Regions from separate parts of the Homo sapiens genome. Here region 1 is linked to region 2. A link means that fine-mapping ties the variant in region 2 to the expression of a gene that starts in the linked region. Tissue or cell type: whole blood. Region 2 holds a variant in brackets; the other region holds the start of a gene. All regions are shown on one strand. Distances are from middle to middle.

Region 1 (8,098 bases), 350 kb before region 2:
GCTAATTTTTGTATTTTTAGTAGAGACAGGGTTTCACCATGTTGGCCAGGCTGATCTCAAACTCCTGACCTCAGGTGATCCACCTGCCTCGGCTTCCCAAAGTGCTGGGATTACAGGTGTGAGACACCGTGCCTGACATTTTTTTTCTTGAGACAGGGTCTTGTGTTCTCACCCTGTCCCCCAGGCTGGAGTACAGTGGCCACGATGGTGGCTCACTGCAGCCTCAACCTCCTGGGTCAACTGATTCTCCTGCCTCAGCCTCCCTAGTAGCTGGGACTACAGGTGCATGCCACTATGCCTGGCTTTTTTTTTTTTTTTTTTTTTTTTTTGTAGAGATGGGGTCTCACTATGTTGCCGAGGCTGGTCTCAAACTCCCGGGCTCAAGCAATCCTACCACCTCGGCCTCTCAGAGTGCTGGGATTACAGGTGTGAGTTGCTGTACCCAGCCCACCTTGCCTTCTTAGACCACCTCCTCCACCCTCTTCCCAACTTCCAGTTATGACTGTTACAAGTCTGCCACGGGCCAGGCCCTGTCCTATGCACTTTGGGTCTCCCTGCTCCCCTCCTGGCCCTGAAGATCATTTCCCTCATGCAGCCAGAGGGTCCCTGTGTACACCCATGACGCATCATATTCCGCACCCCTGGGCACACCAGCATCCTTGAAATTACTCCCCAGGACAGGCCTGTCTCAGGGCCTTTGCACTGGCTGTTCCCTCTGCCTGGAAGGCCCTTCCCTCAGCTGTCCCTGGGGATCCCTCTCTCCGTTCCTTCTGTTCTTTGCTGATATGTTCCCTTCCCAGGCAGGCCTTCTCTGGCCACCTTTTTAATTTTTTTGAGACAGTCTCCCTTTGTCACCTAGGCTGGAGTGCAGTGATGCGATCTCAGCTCACTGCAAACTCTGCCTTCAGGATTCAAGTGATTCTCCCACATCAGGCTCTCAAGTAGCTGGGATTACAGGCACCTGTCACCATGCCTGGCTAATTTTGTATTTTCAGCAGAGATGAGATTTCGCCTTTTTTTTTTTTTTTTTTTTTTTTTTGAGATGGAGTCTCGCTCTTTCGCCCAGGCTGGAGTGCAGTGGCGCAATCTTGGCTCACTGCAAGCTCCGCCTCCTGGTTTCACGCCATTCTCCTGCCTCAGCCTCCCGAGTAGCTGGGACTACAGGCACCCGCCACCATGCCCAGCTAATTTTTTGTATTTTTAGTAGAGACGGGGTTTCACTGTGTTAGCCAGGATGGTCTCGATCTCCTGACCTCGTGATCCGCCCGTCTCTGCCTCCCAAAGTGCTGGGATTACAGACGTGAGCCACCACGCCCAGCCAGATGCGATTTTGCCATTTTGGCCAGGCTAGTCTCGAGCTCCTGACCTCAGGTGATCTGCCTGGCTTAGCCACCCAAAGTGCTGGGATTACAGGCGTAAGCCACCATGCCCGGCCAGGCCACCCTATTTAAGGGGACAATTTAAAGGGAACCTCTGTCCGCACATACACTCCCCATCTCCCTTCCCTCCTCATTTTCTTCATAGCACTTAATATCATCTGACATCTTACATATTTGACTTTTTTTTTTTTTTTTTTTGAGACAGAGTCTCACTCTTGTTGCCCAGGCTGTAGTGCAATGGCACGATCTCGGCTCACCGAAACCTCCACTTCCCAGGTTCAAGTGATTCTCCTGCCTCAGCCTCCTGAGTAGCTGGGATTACAGGCATGCGCCACCACGCCCTGGTAATTTTGTATTTTTAGTAGAGACAGGGTTTCTCCATTTTGGTCAGGCTGGTCTTGAACTCCCGATCTCAGGTGATCTGCCTGCCTAGGCCTCCTAAAGTGCTGGGATTACAGGCCTGAGCTACCGCGCCCGGCCTGGACTTATTTTTTATGTTTCCCCTACTAGGACATCAGCTCCACGAGGGCAGGGGTCTCTGTCCTGTTCACTCCTCCATCCCTAGTGCCAGGACACAGAATAGGCACTCAGTGAAGAAGTAAACAATAAATAAATAAACAACAGGCTGGGCAGAGTGGCTCATACCAGTGCCTGATCCTCCCAGCACTTTAGGAGGCCGAGGCTAGAGGATCGCTTGAGCACAGGAGTTCAAGACCAGCCTGGGCAACATAACAAGACTTTGTCTCTACAAAACAAATAATAATAATAAATAAAAATTAAAAATTAAATTAGTTGGGCATGGTGGCACATGTCTGTAGTCCCATCTGCTTGGAAAGATGAGGTAGGAGGATCACTTTAGCCCAGGAGTTGGAGGCCGAAGTGAGCTATAATATTGTGCCACTGCACTCCAGCTTGGGCAACAGAGCAAGACCCTATCTCTAAGGAAAAAAAAAGTCCTATGAGGCCAATCATTATCAACGTGTTAAGGCCCTTTTTAAAAAGCTAAGACTGGGCCAGGCGCAGTGGCTCACGCCTGTAATCCCAGCACTTTGGGAGGCCGAGATGGGAGGATCACTTGAGGTCAGGAGTTCGAGACCAGCCTGACCAACATGGTGAAACCCCATCTCTACTAAAAATACAAAAATTAGCCAGTGTGCTGGCACATGCCTGTAATCCCAGCTACTCAAGAGGCTGAGGCAGGAGAATCGCTTGAACCTGGGAGACAGAGGTTGCAGTGAGCCAAGATCATGCCATTGCACTCCAGCCTGGGCGACAAGAGCAAAACTCCATCTCAAAACAAAAAAAAAAACAAAAAAAACAAAAACAGAAAAGAAAAGAAAATGAAGCACAGAGAGGTATAGTCACTTTCACTCTTTCACCAACACAGAGCTGGGGAGTGGCAGAGCTGGGATTTTAACTCGGGGACCCGGCTCTGAGCCTGTGATCTGAATTCCTGCCATTGCACCCATCAGCTTCAGTCTAATGTCCAACTCAGGGACTGCCTCTCACGGTGAGCCCTCCCTGAACCTTCTGGCCCCCACGTCCCCACTCCTGATCTGCCCCAGATTCATCTCTGGCTATTGGGTGGGGCAGAAAAAGAGTCCCCTCTCCACCAGGGTGGGGTAAGGGCAGAAAGCCCCCAACAGCCAGGCCCAGAGCACCCAGTTGGAAGTCCCCTGCCAGCCCGGCCTGGCTTGGGGAGGGTCTTACCGCTTCATGTGCTCGCTGGCCACTCCTTGGATGTAAACAGACATTCCCACGTTGAGCCCGCCCGGGATGGGCTGGTAGTAAGGCAGCGTCTGGAGAAGAGGCCTGGTGAGGGGACTCACAAGCCATCTGCCTGTTGCAGCCTTTACCCCTCCCAGAAAAGCCCCCCAGTCCCTTAAGCAGGAGAGAGGAAACCATGGGGGAGGACCAGGTTGAAGATGACGAGGGCCAACAGTTAGACGTGGACACAGACAGCCTGAGGTCAGGGTAGGAGTAAATCGAGGGTCGGGGTCAGCTTTGGGTAAATCAGACCACAGAGTCAGATGGGGCCCCCCAGGATCAGAGTGGGGAAAATTGGTGTGAGGGCTTATGGACGGAGCTGCGGGCGGAGTGGGGCCTGAGCTGGCATCTCACCGGGTTGTAGGTGGGCTGGTAGCCCGGTGCGGGGACATAGGCCATCGCTCGAGGCTGCGCTAGTGGCTGGTCCTGTGAGAAGAGCTGCAGGAGTGGGAGATGGTGGCGGATGGCAGGCGGTGGTGGCTCTTATACCCAGGGTAAGGGAGTGGCTGGCAGGGGAGGGTCCACAGGGCTCCTCTTCTGGGACTCTCAGGCTGTCGGCTTCTCCTAGAGCGCACCCTAGTCTCCCTTCCCTTGCCAGCTTCCCTGGTGACCAGCCAGGACCCAAATCACCTGGGTCCCCTCCCCTACGCCCTCCTGCAAAGAGGAAGTGCTCATGAACTTCGGCCCTGCCAGGGCCTTATCAGAGCCCATAAAACCCTGCCCAGACTTCTGTTGGCAGAGGGAGGGTGAGACCAGGCAGGGCAGGGCAGGCTGCAGGAATGACCCAGGACAGGTGGGCAGCGGAGGAGGAGAACGCGGAGGAACTGCAAATTCCTGCCTCTCCCAGCAACTGTGAAGGGACCTACGTTGATTGCGTGCCCACCACACATCTTTACCACGTATGTTGTATTGTAGGGAGAGTGGTTTAGATTACTAGTGTGTGGAGCCAGAGGTTCTAGGTTCAAATCCTGCCTTTGCCACTTCTCAGCTGTATGATCATGGGTCAGTGCCTTACCCTCAATTTGCCCATGTGCTCATCTGTAAAATGGGGATATAGTAGTATCGGCTGGGTGCAGTGGCTCATGCCTGTAATCCCAGCACTTTGACTGGCCGAGGTGGATGGATCACCTGAGGGCAGGAGTTCGAGACCAGCCTGGCAAAATCCCAGTCTCTACTAAAAATACAAAAATTAGCCAGGCATGGTGGTGGGTGCCTATAATCCCATCTACTTGGAGGCTGAGGCAGGAGAATCACTTGAACCTGAGTGGAGGAGAGTGCAGTGAGCCAAGGTCACGCCACTGCACTCCAGCTTGGATGACAGATGGAGACTCTGTTTCAAAAAAAAAAAAAAAAAAAAAGGAATTCATAAGAGAGGAAACAAGTATTGAATAGCTATCAAAATATTTTAAAAATGAATTTGTGATCCAGTAATGCCTGTATGTTATTAATCTGCCAAATAAGTTCTAGCTGTGGGTCCAACTGCCACTCAGAAAAATAAATAAATAAAGAAAAGAGTAGTATCAACCTTAGGCTGGGTGTGGTGGCTTGTGCCTACAATCCCAGCAATTTGGGAAGCTGAAGCAGGAGGACTGCTTGAGCCCAGGAGTTCAAGACCAGCCTGGGCAACATAGTGAGACCCCCATCTCTACAAAAATAAAATAAAAATTAGCTGGGCATGGTAGCACACATCTGTATTCCTAGCTACTCAGAGGCTGAGGCAGGAGGATCGCTTGAACCCAGGAGTTAAGGTTACAGTGAGCTATGATCATGCCACTGCACTCCAGCCTGGGTGACAGACTAAGAGTCCGTCTCTAAAAATAGCAACAATAATAGTCATAATAATAATAATCATAATAGTATCAACTTCATAGAGTCCTTGATCATTAAGATAATAAATGCTCAGAACAGGACATAGCATATAGAAGTCATTAACTTAATGCTTGGTCTCTTGCAGTCATTCCAAACATAAATCCGGAAGATTGGGATGATATATGGATAAAAAATCCCAAAGTTTTGTTTGCTCATTTTTGAGACAGAGTCTTGCTCTATCACCCAGGCTGCAGTGCAGTGGCACCATCTCAGCTCACTGCAACCTCCACCTCCCAGGTTCAAGGGATTCTCCTGCCTCAGCCTTCTGAATAGCTGGGATTACAGGCTTACTCCACGCCTGGCTAATTTTTGTATTTTTAGTAGAGACCAGGTTTTGCCATGTTGGCCAGGCTGGTCTCAAACTCCTGACCTCAAGTGATCCACCTGCCTCAACCTCCCAAAGTGCTGGAATTACAGGCATGAGCCACTGCACCCGGCCAGAAACCCCAAAGTCCTTTTTTGTTTTGTTTTTTCTTTTTTTGAGACAGAGTCTCACTCTGTCACCCAGGCTGGACTGCAGCAGCATGATCTCAGCTCACTGCAAACTCACCTCCTGGGTTCAAGGATTCTCCTGCCTCAGCCTCCCGAGTAGCTGGGACTAGAGGCACCTGCCACCACACCTAGCTAATTTTTGTATTTTTAGTAGAGACTGGGTTTCAACATGTTGACTAGGCTGGTTGCAAACTCCTGAGCTCAGGCAATCCACCTGCGTCAGCCTCCAAAAGTGCTGGGATTACAGGTGTGAGACGCCAGCATCAGATCCCATGTGCTGTGCAGTGAGAGGTGCCAGGCAGGGCACGAACGCCACCCTCAACCCCAGGGCAGGCAGGGAGACCAGGAAGCCTTGCAACCCAGAGGGACCCCAGCGACTTTTGCTCACTCCCTCCGCCCCGGAATTCCTTGTGCCCCTCGCCTGCCCGCTGCCAGTCTGAATGGCCATCACCTCCATGCCACCCATTCCCATGCATCCAACCTCTAGCCCCAGCCTTCAGGACTGCAGTCTCTGGAGCCCCTAGGTGCATCCCAGCCCCTCCCACCTCTCCTCTATCCAAGAAGGGCACCAGGTTCTTTACTTTGCTTTATTGTTTGTGGGGTGAAGATAAGGCCTTGGGCTTGAGAAACTCATTGTCATAAAGTTATAAACTGGGAAACTGGGTCAGAAGGCATAGAAACAACTGTCATCGCCCATCCTCCCTTTCTGTGGATGAGGCGGGACAAGGCCGGCCCCCTGGCTGGGGCCTGGGACGCGAGGGCTCTCAGAGCTTGGAGAAGGTGACGGTTTTCAGTTCCTTGTTCTCAGTCGTGGCCTGGACCGACTTCACGAGGTCTTGGGTCTGCAGCATGCTCATGTTCCAGGACGCCTGGTACCGAGGGTGTTGAGAGAGAACGAGGAGAGAGATTAGCAGGGGCCAATCAGGATAAAGCATGAGAGCACCCTGCACCCTGGTTGGTCGCCTGGGGTTAGAGGAGGGCTGTGATTGGTCGGAGCGTGCACCTTACCACGTAGTTGAGGCTCTCGGCCACCGAATGGTCGCGGGAATACAGCAGGTTGACCTTGGTGCTCTGCACCGCCACGGGGCTCTTGCTGGAAATCTCGGCCGCCAGCGCTAAGGCAGCATCCAGCATGACCTCTTTGTCTGGGAACACCCGGCTGCAGTGAAAGAGATCAGGGACCGGGTGGGCTGGGAAGGGCTCTCTCCTCCAGCCTCCCGCAGATGAAGAAGTGGCCACTCACAGAGGAAGGCCCAAGACCCCAGAGAAACAGCCCAATCAGAGCAGGGGGCTGACCCCACAATAAAGAAATGAGCTCACCAAGAAAGGATGCCACTAGGAATTCTAGAGCGAGGAGACAAGGGGACCCGGAGAGGCCTCCAACCCTCCAGGCCTGGCTGCCCCCAGCACTGAGCTACCACGGCCATGGCCCTACCTGACCAGCCCACTGCCCAGGGCCTCGTCAGCCATCATCTTGCGGGCGGTGAAGGCCAGCTCGTTGACCAGGCTGCAAAGGCAAGCGTGCATCAGGAGGCGGCTGCCACCCCGGGGCTGGGAGATGCTCTGGGGTCTCCTGCCCACACCCCCACACCCCCTGCACCCACCTCTGGTTCCCGATGACCTTGGGCAGGCGCTGCAGTGTTCCTACATCGGCAGCCAAACCCACGTCCACCTCCTGGGGGAGGAATCGGGTCAGTGTTTGGTTTCTGCCCAATACTGTGCCCCTCGCAATGTCAACGTCCATGAAATTTCATGTCTACTGGAGAGTCCCGCCCCACCTTCACCCCAGTGACTTCCTCCAAAGTCCCATTCCATTGCCCAGGCAGCTTCTTGACTCAGGCAAGTTCCTTCAACCTAGAATAGAGCCCACCTTCCCACTCATGCACCCTCCCATTCCCTCAGGGCAGCTCCATCTGTGAGAGAGGAACCCTCCTCACCCTACCTGAGACCCCTTTACTGCATCCCCCGGCTCCATCCTGCCTCCCACCCTCACCAGTATGGCCCCAGGAGCAATCTCTGCCTCTGACACCTGCCAGCCTCAACCCCACCTCATACCTTACCCACTCACAACTTCACCTCTTGACTTCCTCTATGGGCAAGTCTTACTTTGTCGGGTTCAACTCCGACTCTTCCATGAAGCCCTCGAGGCTCACTCCAGGCCCCCCAACCTCACCCCACTGCCCAGCTCTAAGCAGGAGCTCGGGAGGATGACTCACCTTCACCTGGAAGAAAGCATCCTGGGCACAGTACCGGATGTCACAGGCGGTGACAAGGTCCACACCTAGGAGGTAGAGGCCAGGGATGCTGAATGACCACCAGAACCAACCCTGGCTCCCGGGAGGTGGGGCTGCCTCTTGGGACACAGTCTGGCCCATGACAGAGCTGAGGCTGGATGCCAGTGGCCGCGGCATCGGAGCAGCAGCCCCACCTGGGGAGCACCCGAGCAGGAGGATAGCCGCAGACTCACCTCCGCCAATGCAGCCCCCATGGACGGCAGCAATCACGGGCTTGGGGCACTGAGAGGGAACAGGAAGAGTGGGGTCAGGGCTGGCCCAGGGGAGGCGCGTATGGAGAAAGATCCCCTCCAGACC
Region 2 (8,100 bases):
CTCGGCCAGTCCTGCCACCTCCACCTTTACAGTGTGCCCAGAACCTGCTCATGCCGCCCCCTCTGCAGCCCCCACAAGGTCCTGCCCCCTTGATTTCCACTGGGCCATCACAGCCTCCTCCTCCCTGGTCCCCCTTTCCGTTCTGCCCCCACAGACTGTTCCCAGCCAGTGGGAGCCTGTGAACTCCTGAGTCAGGCGGTGGCCCTCCTGGGCTCAGAGACCCCTGCAACTCCGTCTCACTCGGGAAAGGACCAGGCCCTCCCGGTGGCCCCCAAAGCCCCACACGATCTGCCCCATTACCTCCTTGGCCTGTCCTTCCACTTGCCCCCTCGCCCACCCTGCTCCAGCCACGTGGCCTCCTCGCTGTCCCTTGACCATATCAAGCAAATTCCTACCGCCCTGGCTGTTCCTTCCTCCTGGGCTGCCCTTCCTCCAGAGCCCTACATGGCTCCCTCTCCCCTCCTCACGCAGGTCCCTGCTCACGTGTCCCCTTCTCAGCAAGGCCTGCCTGACCACTTTATTTTATAATAATAGTTATTATTATTATTTTGAGATGGAGTCTCACACTCTGTCGCCCAGGCTGGAGTGCAATGGTGCGATCTTGGCTCGCTGCAACTTCCACCTCCCAGGTTCAAGCGATTCTCCTGCCTCAGCCTCCCAAGTAGCTGGGACTACAGGCGCCTGCCACCACGCCAGGCTAATTTTTTGTATTTTTAGTGGAGATGGGATTTCACCATGTTGGCCAGGCTGGTCTCCAACTTCTGACCTCAAGTGATCTGCCTGCCTTGGCCTCCAAAAGTTCTGGGATTACAGGCATAAGCCACTGCACCCAGCCTGTTATTCTTATTTTTGAGACAAGGTCTCACCCTGTCACCTAGGCTGGAGTGCAGTGGCACGATCACTCACTGCAGCCTCGACCTCCCAGGCTCGGGTGATTCTCCCGCCTCAGCCTCCTCAGTAGCTGGGACCACAGGCGCACACCACCACACCTGGCTAAATTTTTATTTATTTTTTATTTTTGGGGTAGAGACAGGGTCTCACTAGGTTGCCCAAGCTGATCTTGAACTCCTGGGCTCAAGCGATCCTCCCTCCTTGGCCTCCCAAAGTGCTGGGATTACAGGCGTGAACCACCGTGCCCGGCCTTGACCACTTTATTGAGAATTCCAGCCTCCCCTCCCCTCAGCTCCTTTCTGATTGCTGCGTTATTTTCTATGTCAGCATTTCTCACCCGACTTAGTAGATGTTTTTCTGATTTATCTCATACATTGACTGCCTCCTTCCTTCTAGAATGTGAGTGCTGCGAGGACAGGGATGTTTCTGACTGTTGGGTGCACTGCTATGGGCCCCAGGCCCAGCAGAGTCAGCCCTTGGTAGACATGGACGGGTGCGTGGGTCGATGCGTGGGTGGGTGTGATCGGGTCACTTGTGGGTGGAGTAGGTGTTTGCTAAGGCAGACTCTGGGGATGTGTCGGTCCCAAACCTGAGGACTCCTTGGAGGAACGAGGCTCAGTGTGGGAGGCCTGAAGAGAGATGTGGTTAGAGGAGGGTTGGGGGCCGTGCAGGATGGGGGCAAGAGCTAAGCCAAGGTTTGGAGGCAGGAATGGCTTGGGGGACTCAGGACAGCGAGGAGCCTGCTGTGCCGGGACGGGAAGCCAAACTCCCAGCGCCTCCACCATCAAAGCACATGCCAGAAGGTAGGAGGTAAACTGAGGCAGGGAGGGGCCCTCCCAGAGCTGGTAGGTGAAGATTGTGGCAGGGTGGTGAGTGGGACCCAATGGTGGAAGGCTGAGTGCAGGCTGGAGGCAGTGAGCGGTCTGGGTCCCCTTCCTGATTCGAGTTTCATTTTGGTAACGATGAAAGGATGCCTGTGGTCCTGGCCACCTCCCCTGCTCTGCCCCTGGGCCCCTGTGTTCTGGGTGGGCCAGCCCCCTCCCTTCCAGGGGCAGCAGCTTTGATCAGAGCCTGGAGGGGGCGGGGCAGGAGGTAAGGGTTTTTGCACGCTCACGTCTGCTGACACTGACAGCTTTGTCGCACGGTGGATCTTGCTTTTCCATTTGGGCCAGTTAACCTTGTGGGGGAGAATGGGGGTGGTGGGACCCTTTTCCTCCCAGAAAAGGTCAGAGGATGCAGGGGGTGACTGGAAAATCTGAAGTGTCTGCTAGGCCAGGTCAACGCTGCCTGTCCCGCATGTTAAAGAATTCAAAAGATTTTTTAAAATTTGAAATAAACATTTTAGAGTAGGATACAAAATGCGCTTGCATTTCTGGGATCAAATACTGGACTTCAGAGGCATCTGTGCCCCGGCTGGGGCAGAAGGCTGCACCTTCCTGCTGCTCTGGGACTACTGCCCCCAGGTCCCAGCTGCTTATCTGAAAGATTTCCCGGGTGCTGCTGGGCCTTGTCCAAGGCCTCTGAGCAGGGGAATAATGCAGCGGACAGGGACGATCATTCCACGGAGTCCCTACTGTGTGCTGCCCTGGGCTACGAGGGGGTAAGACAGAGGACAGTCCCTGCCCTGTGAAGCTGACACATTCTAAGGGAGAGGCAGATGCTAAAGAATTACACATATGGCTGGGCCCGGTGGCTCACGCCTGTAATCCCAACACTTTGGGAGGCTGAGGCAGGTGGATCACCTGAGGTGAGGAGTTCAAGACCAGCCTGGCCAACATGGTAAAACCCCATCTCTACTAAGAATACATAAATTAGCCGGGTATGGTGGCGGACGCCTGTAATCCCAGCTTCTTGGGAGGCTGAGGCAGGAGAAGCACATGAACCCACTAGGCGGAGGTTGCAGTGAGCCAAGATCATGCCATTGCACTCCAGCCTGGGCAACAAGAGTGAAACTCTGTCTCAAAAAAAAAAAAAAAAAAAAAGAATTATACACACACACACAAGCACGCCATATATGTGGTAAGAGCCCTGAGGAAAGATAAAGCAGAGACAGGTGTAGAGGGCGACAGGACAGGAGCAGGGCTTGTGAGCACAGGCGGGCCTGGGAAGTCAGGGAAGGTGGGAGATCAGTGAGAGGAGAGTTCCAGGTGGGGCACTCGCCCATGCAAAGGCCCTGAGGTGGAACCATGTCTAGGATTTGAGGAACAGCAGGGGGACCTGTGTGGCCAGGGCACAGTGAGTACAGGGGTGCTTGGGAGAAGAGGAGGGCAGCATGGTGATGGGCGCATCCTGTGGGGACTCTCAGGCCACGAGGAGGCATTTTGGGGGCCAGCAAAGGGTTTAAGGCTGTGAACTCTGGAGTGGGCAGGACTCTGGAATGGGCAGGACTCTGGCTTCCAGGCCCAGCTCTGCTCGGTGAGCTTAGTGAGAGATTTTACCTTTGTGAGTCTCTGTTTCCACAGCTGCAAAATGGGGCTCAGAATGGCCACTCCACCGTGGTTGAGGGCGCCTGCGAGCTCAGCGTCAGCGTCTGCTCTGGGCCATGGGTCCCTTGTGGTGGTGGCGATGGTGGTGGGAGTACCGAGCTGAGCCTCAGGCCACATTTGGTGGGAGGGGTTGGTTTTAAGCATCTTTCCTGCTGCACAGGCCCATGGGAAAGGCTGGTGTACAGCCATTGGGGAGGTGGGGGCCCCGGGGCCCACTTTGTGCTTCCTCCCACTACCCGTGGGGTCCAGGACAGGTCACACAGGAGGGAGGGACCCTCACTCAGCAGAGACTAGGCAGGAGAGGAAAGGCAAGGTCTGGGTGTAGACAGAAAGAATGGGAACGGAGGGAGAGGGGAGGCCAGGACCAGCCTTGAGAGGATGATGATGATGATGATAATAATAATAATAATAATAATAAGGCCGGGCGCGGTGGCTCACGCCTGTAATCCCAGCATTTTGGAAGGCCGAGGCAGGTGGATCATGAGGTCAGGAGATCGAGACCATCCTGCCTAACACAGTGAAACCCCATCTCTACTAAAAATACAAAAAAAAAAAAAAAAAAATTAGCCGGGCATGGTGGTGGGCACCTATAGTCCCAGCTACTGGGGAGGCTGAGGCAGGAGAATGGCGCAAACCCGGGAGGCGGAGGTTGCAGTGAGCTGAGATTGCACCACTGCACTCCAGCCTGGGCGACAGAGCAAGACTCCCTCTCAAAATAAATAAATAAATAAATAAATAAATAAATAAATAAAA[T/TAAATAA]AATAATAGACAAAACCAACAGTGTCACCTCAGCCCTCCAGGGCAGCAGGACAGGCAGGTAAGAGCCCAGCCTTCAGTGCCTTCCATACACAACCGCCCAGGTTCAAATCCTGGCTGCTTCTCATGTCTGCCTCTCACTGGCTGCTTCTCCTGTCCATGCCCTGGACAAGGGCCTTCCCTTCTCTGGGCCTCAGTTTTCCCATTCATGAATTGGGATGAGGATGCTTGTGAGGATGGAACGGGATTAGACGCACAGCAGGGCCGGAACCCGCGAATCTCTGCAGACAGGCCTGGAGTCTGGTGTCCACTCTGCCACCCTAGCTGGGCCACCTGGGTTAATGAGGTCCCCCTCTGTGCCTTGTTTTCCCTGTCTGTAATCCGGGGCTTATTAATGGCCCCTCCCTCCAGGATCATATGTGGGACTCCGGGTAAAGTGCCTGGAAGAGGGCTGGTATACAGTAGGTACTCAGTAAGTGCTGGCTGCTATTGGAATGGTGACCGGCACTTACTGAGCACTTACTGTGTGTGTGATTTGCCTTGGTTCTGATCCCAACCACTGTCTCTGGGCCAGGCCCTCCGTGCCCTCTGTTCTGCGTAATTCCTTATAAAAACTCCAGGAAGGCCAGGCGCAGGGCTCACGCCTGTAATCCTAACACTTTGGGAAGCCAAGGCAGATCACTAGAGGTCAGACCAGCCTGGCCAACATGGTGAAACCCCATCTCTACTAAAAATACAAAAATTAGCTGGGCGTGGTGGCAGGCGCCTGTAATCCCAGCTACTTGGGAGGCTGAGGCAGGAGAATTGCTTGAAGCCGGGAGGCGGAGGTTGCAGTGAGCCAAGATCGCACCACTGCACTCCAGCCTGGGCGACAGAGCAAGACTCCGTTTAAAATAAATAAATAAATACTCCACGAAGCAGCTACTATTATCGCCGTCTTTGAACAGAGGAGGAAACTGAGGCACAGCGTGGCTGAGTTGCTCACCCAGGGCCACATATTGAGGTCCCCAGGTTGGGTTAGAGCTCCAGTTCACAGACACAGAAAGTGAGGTCATATAGGGCCAGTCGTGGCAGCCCTGCTGGGGTTTGGAGCCCTAGGCAGCCTGACTGCCAAGCTTGGAGCTGGCCTGGGAGCCCAGCCCCCACCCTTCCCTCCCTGCACCTGGGCAAGCCCAGCCTTTCTGCCTAGCTCTTCTCCCTCTTCCCAGGCCTGGCACGGCCTCTGTGGCCCCCATGAGGTCAGGAGCATCTGTTGGGAAGGGAGCGCCTGCTGGGGAAGCCGGCAGGGCTTGGAGCTGCACAGGACGGCCCAGGGTGGGGTCCCTGCCTGGTCATTATAAACATGTTCAGTTCCTCTGTTTGTCCTGCCCTCTGTGCAGTGCCCAGAGGGAAGGGGTGGCCCCAGGCAAATATCCGGAGGCGTGCCCCTTGCCCCCTTCCCTTGGGGGTTTATGGGTGGGAGGGCAGGAGGCCAGGCGTCGGAGGACATCCCCCAGACCCCATGCTGCCAGCTGGGCCAGCCGCCCGCCCTCCAGGCTGCTCTTGCCCCGTCCCCAGGTGTCCCCCACCTCAGGGTCTGCCCCGCTGTCCGCCCTCCGGGCTTAGTGAGGGGTCACATGGCTGATCCTCTTCCCGTGGCTCTGGGAACTGCCTAGTGCCCCGCAGTGGGGAGGGAGCGGGATGGGGCGGGGCGACAGGTTCACGATGAAGAGGCCTGGGCTGGGCATGGGGCCAAAGGGGGTGGAGGGACATCTGGGAGGACGGAGAGGCCGGAGGACATGGGACGCAGATCTGGAATGACAGCAGGCAGAGTGGGCAAATGGGGACTGTTGGGGTATGTGGATGACCCTGGGAGCTGGGCCTAGAAAGCCATGAGAGAGTAGGTCAGGGCCACCAGGGGTGGGCTGGGCTGGAAGGCCACGAGGGAGGGGTGGGCAGCACTCAGGGCGCCAGCATTGGGCTCAGAGAAGGGGCTGGGCAGAGACAAAGGAGGCCCCCCGTCCGCCCTCCATCCTGGGCCCCAGGGCAAGCAGGGAAACTGGGCCAACCCTGGGAGCCTTGGCCAGGCCCGGCTCTGACCACCCGCTGGCCTCTTGGGACCAGCTGAGACAGGTTGGCTGCCGGGCCCCCACCCCCCTCCCACGGGGCTCCCGCTGCCAAACCGGTTCCCCTGGCTGGCTCCCATGGATGGTCCTAGCTCTGGGCAGGGCCTCACCTTTCCCAGCTGCTCCCAGGAAGGCAGCCTGAGCCGGGAGGAGAAGTAGGTGTGGAGGGGCTACGTGCATCTGCGCGTCCTCTGTCCTCTCACTAGGGCTACAGGACTTGCTGTGCCACGCGCTGTGCCAGGCGCGGGGGAGCCAGCTGGGACAAGACAGAACAGAAACTCCACCTGCATGTCCCCTCGTCCCCTGGTCTCAACTCTTCCCCTCTTCCTGGAAGCCTTCCTGCTGCCCACCCCGCGTCCCTCCAGACTGGGTCCCGTGCTCCCGTCCCCCAGCCCTGACCACCCTGGGCAGCTGCTGCATGGGGACAGGTCTGTCTGCCCCACACGAATTTCCCATGAGGTCAAAGGCTGTCTGGGTCACTGCAGTGGCCACAGAGGAGGCCCATTGCTGAGTTATTCCCAAATGAATGAATGAATGAGTGAGTGAATGGATGCATTCCTCTCATTTTACAGATGAGTAACCCGAAGCCCCTAGAGGAGTGGTCACCTGCCTGAGGGCACTTCTGTCCCACCAGCATCAGACCAGGTGTGTGCAGGTGTGTGCGACTCCAGGGCCCAGGCCCGGGGCAGCTGGGGTGGGGCCTTAGGGGGGAGCAGGACCTGGGCCCCTCCTCCCACAGGCACTGTGGGAGCCGCCCCAGCCATCACAGTGGTCCCCACCGATAGGCCCCCCATATTTGCCCAGCCCTGCACCAAGCTCTTTGCTCCCAGTCACCCATTACCCCTCGCAGCAGCCCTGTGGGGGTTCATCCACAGCACAGAGAGGTTGTCACCTGCCCAAGGTCACGGCAGCATGTGATGGAGAGTCGAACTCTGGCCTCTTGGCTCCCCCTCCCATCTTTCTCCAGGCTCTCTATGGGATGCCGCCATCAGAATGTCTCTTCCTCAGCCCCTTTGTTTTTTAAAGTGGCTTTGGTCGACCATTTGCTCTGTGCTTGGTACTGTGTCAAGGGCCCGATTGAAGACCACAGATCCTAAAGATAGGGGAGTGTCGCGACAAGGCTGCCTGGGGTGCCCTCTTAACCCAGGGGATCAGTAACCCTGTGCTGAGTCAATATCCAAAGGTGTGGGCGTCCCCAGCCCAGACTCATGGCTGGACCAGTGGCAGTGGCCAGGCCATCAGTGACCGTCCATCCAGTACACACCATGTACCAGGCATAGCAGGGGATGTGGGGAAGCGGGGCAGACGAGACCCAGCCAGAATGTGGCACTGACACTCTAGCGGTGCGGTGTGGATGCTGCACTCATGAACCTAAGAAGGAACAACAAACAGGATTTCCATGAGTTCCGGGCTGTGACTGTGATGTAGAGCGGGGGGACGGCGGGACACGGGGCTCTTTGCCTTGGGGTGGTCAGGAAAGGAGTCACTGCTGCTCTGAGAACTGAAGGAGGGGACGGGGAGCCCTGTGCAGACACTGGGAAGTGAGCTCCTGGCAGAGGGGCCAGCCCGTGCAAAGGCTCTGAGGTCTCCAGGGGGGGTGAGAACAGAGAGGTGATGGGGCCTTGTGGGCCCGCAGGAGACAGAGCGGCAGGAAAGTTCTGAGCAGAGGGACGTGACCGCTCGGGTGCTCACGGGTACCCTCTGGCTGTGTGTGCCACACAGATGGGCGCAGGGGGTGGGCAGGGAGACCCAGAAGGAGGCTACTGCCTCCTGTTGGTCCCGGTGTAAGATGAGGATGGGAGGGACAGAGCAGGGGCAGAGGAGGAAGAGACATGGGCAGGCTCTCACTCACCCACCGTGATTCCCTC

Alleles and levels. Alleles are on the strand shown, and positions count from the first base shown. SD is a standard deviation of normalised expression in the study named.
In carriers of allele TAAATAA in region 2, the expression in whole blood of the gene that starts at base 3,604 in region 1 tends to be lower than with T alone (large effect, 0.82 SD a copy in TwinsUK).

Evidence for each region. PIP is the estimated chance that this variant, and not a neighbour inherited with it, causes the effect.
Region 1: it holds the start of LGALS4, and the variant in region 2 is fine-mapped to the expression of LGALS4 in whole blood (TwinsUK, PIP 0.95).

Annotation. Positions count from the first base shown.
Region 1 is chr19:38,809,342-38,817,439 of GRCh38, forward strand. It overlaps LGALS4 (galectin 4), which reads right to left and starts at 3,604. Exons shown (of 10, transcript NM_006149.4): 1 at 3,501-3,604; 2 at 3,090-3,178. The coding sequence starts at 3,545. ECH1 (enoyl-CoA hydratase 1) reads right to left here. Exons shown (of 10, transcript NM_001398.3): 5 at 7,975-8,023; 6 at 7,724-7,788; 7 at 7,112-7,182; 8 at 6,943-7,014; 9 at 6,516-6,666; 10 at 6,081-6,376. The coding sequence ends at 6,272. RefSeq lists a silencer at 6,414-6,614.
Region 2 is chr19:39,161,426-39,169,525 of GRCh38, forward strand. PAK4 (p21 (RAC1) activated kinase 4) reads left to right here. Exons shown (of 10, transcript NM_005884.5): 2 at 6,805-6,877. Among named protein-coding and RNA genes, the nearest start is that of PAK4-AS1, 29 kb to the left of the region's middle. The variant T/TAAATAA (reference allele first, on the strand shown) is at 4,131.